Regions from separate parts of the Homo sapiens genome. Here region 2 is linked to region 1. The links come from fine-mapping of genetic effects on plasma protein levels. Region 1 holds a variant in brackets. A gene starts in the other region. All regions are shown on their reverse strands.

Region 1 (2,915 bases):
CATGACTGGTGTCACCAATAGCAGTAGTGGTGTCAGGCCAACTGTCAGGTTCCCAGCCGGTATACACTGGTGCTAGCAGTGCTGGGCAGGCAATTCTCCAGGCCCCCAGGTGGCACATGTAGGTGGGTGCTGGAGGTAGTGGTGGCACCCAGCAGTGCAGGTCTGTCCTCAAGGCTACTGATGTTGCACACAGGGACAGACTATGGTGAGTGGAATAGGGCAATTTCCAGACCTTTGGGTGGCATGCTTAGGTGGTAGCAGGTGGGGCAAACCTCCATGTAGGTCCTTGTATGGCATCCTGGCAAGCCATTTTCAGGCTCACTGAAGGCTCATGAAAGTGCACAGTGTCCCTGCTGCTGCGAGGAAGTGGGGTTGCTATCAGTGATAGTGACCCCAGACAGGTGGCTCTCAGGCTCTGGGGAGATGCTTCAGCTCTCTTTATCATGGGGGAACACTCCTCTGTGAACTACCCATTTCCCAGTACATCAGACACTGTGTGGAATAGATGGCTGGGGACCTAGACACACTGCCAGTCCAGCCAGCATGGCACCACTGCAGCCCTCCAGATGGATAAGGGAGGTTATCAGTGGGGCTCTAGACATGTAGAGATGTAGGGCTTACTGGGGCCCAGGACAGGATGCAATCTTGTGGGAGCTGGACTCTCAAAATGGTGCCATGCTGGAGTTACCTGGGTCTTGGGGTTGGGGATTGGGATGTAGGACCCAGCACAAACTCCCCCTCTGGAACAACGCTATTGTGCAAACTCTAGGCAGCTCCCTGTACTAGTCTCAGAGCCCACAGAAGCTGAGGGGCTCTCCCATGGCTAGGATTGCAAGGGCCCACAGTGGGAATGTGGACTGCTAGGAATCTCTCATTTATTCTTTTTCTACAGTGGGGATCCATACCAGGCTTCCAGTCAATCCTAGCCAGACAATTGCTTCACTTCTTTCTCTCTCTGTGCCTCAGAAGGATCTGTTCCCTATCACTTCCCTGCTGGATTCCAGTGTTCTATCTTAGACACTATTCGTTGTGAAATTATCTACTTGCTGTTTTGATCGTTTTTGGTGGTGAGTGTTGGGTGCCTCTAGTAGCCGTCTTGAAGCCTCCCCCTTGAGCTATTCTCTTTTAAGGGAAAGTTCTTCTCTCCATAATCATGAATATCAATGTGTCTTTCAATAAGAGAGTTGAGGATTCCTGAACACGGGACCCAACTCCAATCCATAGAAACTACCCACACCTTTCTTCTCTGTCCTTGTATCTGTATTGTAAACTACAGACTTTCTTATTGGTAATAATTGTTTTACATATTGAGAATTATATATATATCTCTATGTGTGTATATATATATTTAAAATAATTATATATATAAAACAATTATATATAAACAATTCTATATAAAACCATTATATATAAATATATAATTATGTATATAAAACAATTACATATAAATATAT[AT/T]TTTTTTAATTCAGAAAAACCTAAAAGTCAATATGATGTCACCTTTTTATGCTGAATCACCTACAGCAACTGTTTTTCCACCTAAGACTCTCTCTCAGAGTGGAATATGTTGCTACAAAGCAGTGAAATATGTTTTTCCCTTATATTTAGAGTAGTTCATTTAATGAAGAAAGTTCATCTGTTTCTAGACACCTTTTCAGGGAATCTCAATTTTGATAGAGATTCCTACAAGATATATATGTTTATTCTCCCCACCCTCCCCACCACCACACACAAAATTATAGCTCTCTAAACGTCAGTATCTAAAATAAACCCCATTTAAAAAAATTTCTTTTTACTTTTATGGTAAAGTTGCTAAGACTGATCTACCACCCTCACATGATTATTGTTTTGAAACTCCTGCCAATTACAAACAGATCTTGACTCATGTTTCACAAACCCTGTCACTGAGCTCCAAAGACACAGAGTAACAAATAGGCTTAAAATGGAAATACATTACAACTCTATTTTTCTGCTGAATGGGAGTTTTATTTAGAGAATCATCTCATATCTACACAAGATTATATCAAAATAACCAATGTAGTAAAATTTCATTCAGCTGTTTTATAAGTGGCAGGAAGTGGGACTGAAGTGATAGGAAAGGACAGACTTTCCAGGTCCTCTAGACCACGTTAATTATATTTTTCTTCTTCTCAAGGCCAATAGGAAGTAACTTGGTCAGGTTTGATCTGGTCAAAGTCAGAGTTGATTTTCTGACATGTCAGATCTGTCAACATTAGGCAGTTAATAAACCTATTAATATAATTTAGTATATAAAGTAGAAAAATAGTATGATATCACATAGACATTTAATAATGTGAATTTTTATTTTTAACTAAAACAATAGAAAAGAAGCTGATACCATTTATAGTTTTTAATTAGATAAAGAAGTATTACATTGTTATATAATTAGATATATTCTCAAATTAGTAGGCAATATTATTTGTGTTTCACAGACTATGCCACAGCACACTCAAAGCTACCAAACTGCCCTAAAAAGATAAAGTAACCTTTCTAGAATGAGATTCATTTCATTTTATGTCAATACTGCTAAAAATTTCCTTCAAAAGCTGACTCTTTCAATTAGGCTCAGAATTAATTTCTGATTTAATTCTTCGTTTCCTCTTTTTTAAAAAGTTTTTTATTTCCATAGGTTTTTAGGGAACAGATGGTAATAGTTACATGAGTAAGTTCTTTAGTTTTGATTTGTGAGATTTTGATGCACTCATCACCCAAGCAGTATACACTGAACCCAATTTGTAGTCTTTTCTTCCTCAAACCCCTCGTACCCTTTCCCCTGAGTCCTCAAAGTCCATTGTATTATTCTTATGTCTTTGCATCGTCATAGCTTAGCCCCCCACTTATGAGTGAGAACATACAATATTTGGTTTTCCATTCCTGAGTTACTTCACTTAGAATAA
Region 2 (2,915 bases), not on the chromosome of region 1:
GGCTCCGCCACCGGGGCGGGGAACTGGGAGGCGGCCCCGCCTCTGGGCATCCTCCTGGGTCTTGCCTAGCGGCGGGCGCATGCTTAGTCACCGTGAGGCTGCGCTTGCCCGGGGCCCGCGCCCCCCTACCCCGGGGACCGCCCCCGGGCCGCCCGCCCCACTTGGCGCGCCACTTCCGCGTGCATGGCCCTGCTGCCCCGAGCCCTGAGCGCCGGCGCGGGACCGAGCTGGCGGCGGGCGGCGCGCGCCTTCCGAGGCTTCCTGCTGCTTCTGCCCGAGCCCGCGGCCCTCACGCGCGCCCTCTCCCGTGCCATGGCCTGCAGGCAGGAGCCGCAGCCGCAGGGCCCGCCGCCCGCTGCTGGCGCCGTGGCCTCCTATGACTACCTGGTGATCGGGGGCGGCTCGGGCGGGCTGGCCAGCGCGCGCAGGGCGGCCGAGCTGGGTGCCAGGGCCGCCGTGGTGGAGAGCCACAAGCTGGGTGGCACTTGCGTGAGTACCGCCGGTTTGTTCGGGCGGGGGGCGCCTCTTTGTCTCGGTCTTTCGGGGGACAGCCTGTGCTCGTTCCTATGGCGATCCTGTCCCCCGGCGCTGGGCTTTCCTCTTTTCCACCCCCGCAACTCCCCATTCCGAAGCCAGGAACCCAGCAGGTGGAGGAGAGAGAGGCGTCCGGGGGCTTCTCTGCGGCCCGCAAAGCCGAGCCAGCGTCTGCTTCCGCACGGATGCGATATTGACCAGGGCCGGGGCGGGTTAGATTAACCTTCCTCCATCCTCACTTGTCCAAGTGGGAGAGGATTGGATTCTGTTCTTGACCGCGTGAAACACAAAACTGCATCTGGGAACATTGCTGGTGGCCTGTGTGTAGGGACGAGGGTGACGGTGCCATAGATCCTGGTTCTTGAAAAATGTAGATCCTGGTTCTCCCGTTTCAAGGGCAGAATGATTTATAGCGGTTGTTGTCAACCTTGGCTACACATTCGAATCACCTGAGGGTGCCTGGATTCCCGACTTAATTGGTCTGAGGTGCACTTGGGCTTTGGGATGTTTCCCGACTTAATTGGTCTGAAGTGCAGCCTGGGCTTTGGGATTTTCGGGTGATCTGAATTGCAGCCAAGGCGACCTTGAGTAGGTGAGTTCTCAGAGCTTTTGTTTTGTCTTGGTTTTATGTGGATTGCAAAACTAAAAACAGAGGGATGTAAATCCTGAGATTTACAAAATTCATAATTTTTGAAAATAAGGGTTTTTGTTTGTGTTTGTTTTTTGAGACAGGGTCTTGCCCTGTCACCTAGGCTAGAGTGCAGTGGCCATCATAGCTCACTGCAGCCTCGAACTCCCGGGCTCAAGGGATCCTCTCACCTTGGCCTCCTGAGTAGCTGGAACTACAGGGGGCTAATCACCACGCCTAGTTAATTATTATTATTTTTTGTAGAGATGGGGGTCTCGCTATGTTGCCCTTGCTGATTTCAACCTCTTGGACTCAACCGATCTTCCCGCCTCAGCCTCCCAAAGTGCTGGGATTACAAGCCTGAGCCACTGCACTCATTCTAAAAATAAATGTTGTTTCCAAGTTATTGGTGTGCCCGCCCTTTTCTATCACAAGATTTGGGTGTTGACGATTAAAATGCTGTATCCAAGAGGAACCTGGGATTTGGGATAGGTTCTCTAAATTCCTTTGGAGATGAATATTTAAATTATGTCAAATTGGGAGCTCTTTAAGGACAGGGATGGGCTTCTGTGTTTGTGTGTCTCTTATCACCTTAAAATCCCTTGCTCAATAAGCACTTGTGCAATGAATGAAACTAAAAATGGACAGTTATGAAAAGGTTGACTTCATTGTTCAGTGCCTTGGAGATGAACATGGAGATGAAGAGAAAGGAAAAATCTCTGTTAATTATCAACTTGCACTTTGACACCATAGTCCAGACAGAAGGTTAGAAATCTGTCTCTCCAGAAGGCAGATTGTGGGGTGCCACTAAGTGCCCCCCTCCCACACCTCATGAGAGTACTTGATCACTTCTCACTTCTGTTCTGCTCTCCACATTTTCTCTGTCTTCCTCTTTCTCTACTTATGTTATAATGTGCTTCAGAGGTTCACCCACTTTACCTTCCTGTTATGAATTCTTTTTTTTTTTTTTTTTTTGAGAGGGAGTCTCACTCTGTCACCCAGGCTGGAGTACAGTGGTGCAATCTGGGCTCACTGCAACCTCTGCCTCCCAGGTTCAAGCAGTTCTCCCGTCTCAGCCTCTCGAGTAGCTGGGAATGCAGGTGCATGCCACCATGCCCGGCTAGTTTTTGTACTTTTAATAGAGATGGGGTTTTGCCATGTTGGCCAGGCTGGTCTCAAACTCCTGACCTCTGGTAATCCACCCACCTTGGCCTCCCAAAGTGCTTGGATTACAAGCATGAGCCACCACACCCAGCTAATTTTTTATTTTTAAAATGTATTTATCTATTTTTTTTTCGATATGGAGTCTTGCTCTGTCACCCAGGCTGGAGTGCAGTGGTGCAATCTCGGCTCACTGCAACCTCCGCCTCCTGGGTTCAAGCAACTCTCCTGCCTCGGCCTCCCAAATTGCTGAGATTACAGGTGCCACTACACCCAGCTAACTTTTGTATTTTTAGTAGAGCCAGGCTGGTCTTGAACTCCTGACCTTGTGATCCGCTCACCTCAGCCTCCCAAAGTGCTGGGATTACAGGCGTGAGCCACCACGCCTGGCCTGTTTTTATTTTATTTATTGTTTTTTAGAAACAGGGTTTTGCCATGTTGCCCAAACTGGTCTCTTATGCCTGTGCTTAAGCAGTCGGCCTGCCTTGGCCTCCCAAAATGCTGGGATTACAGGCATCAGCCACCACTCCTGTCCCATTTTTTGTATTTTAAGTGCTGGGATTGGGGGTGGGTAGGGAGAAAACGATAGATA

Direction of the effects. Alleles are on the strand shown, and positions count from the first base shown. The strength of an association depends on the size of the effect and on how common the allele is.
For the plasma level of the protein whose gene starts at base 173 in region 2, AT is the high allele of the variant in region 1 and T is the other (weak association).

Evidence for each region. PIP is the chance, under the fine-mapping model, that this variant and not a neighbour inherited with it causes the effect. Protein levels are from antibody-based Olink assays in UK Biobank. Linkage for the fine-mapping came from a reference panel and not from the study's own genotypes, which makes the PIPs less certain.
Region 2: GSR starts here. The variant in region 1 is fine-mapped to the plasma level of the GSR protein (UK Biobank, PIP above 0.99).

The regions. Positions count from the first base shown.
Region 1 is chr12:7,380,503-7,383,417 of GRCh38, reverse strand. All of the region lies in intron 8 of CD163L1 (CD163 molecule like 1), which reads left to right. Among named protein-coding and RNA genes, the nearest start is that of CD163L1, 62 kb to the left of the region's middle. The variant AT/T (reference allele first, on the strand shown) is at 1,455.
Region 2 is chr8:30,725,104-30,728,018 of GRCh38, reverse strand. GSR (glutathione-disulfide reductase) reads left to right here and starts at 173. Exons shown (of 13, transcript NM_000637.5): 1 at 173-489. The coding sequence starts at 184. RefSeq lists silencers at 1-2, 73-512 and an enhancer at 588-1,275.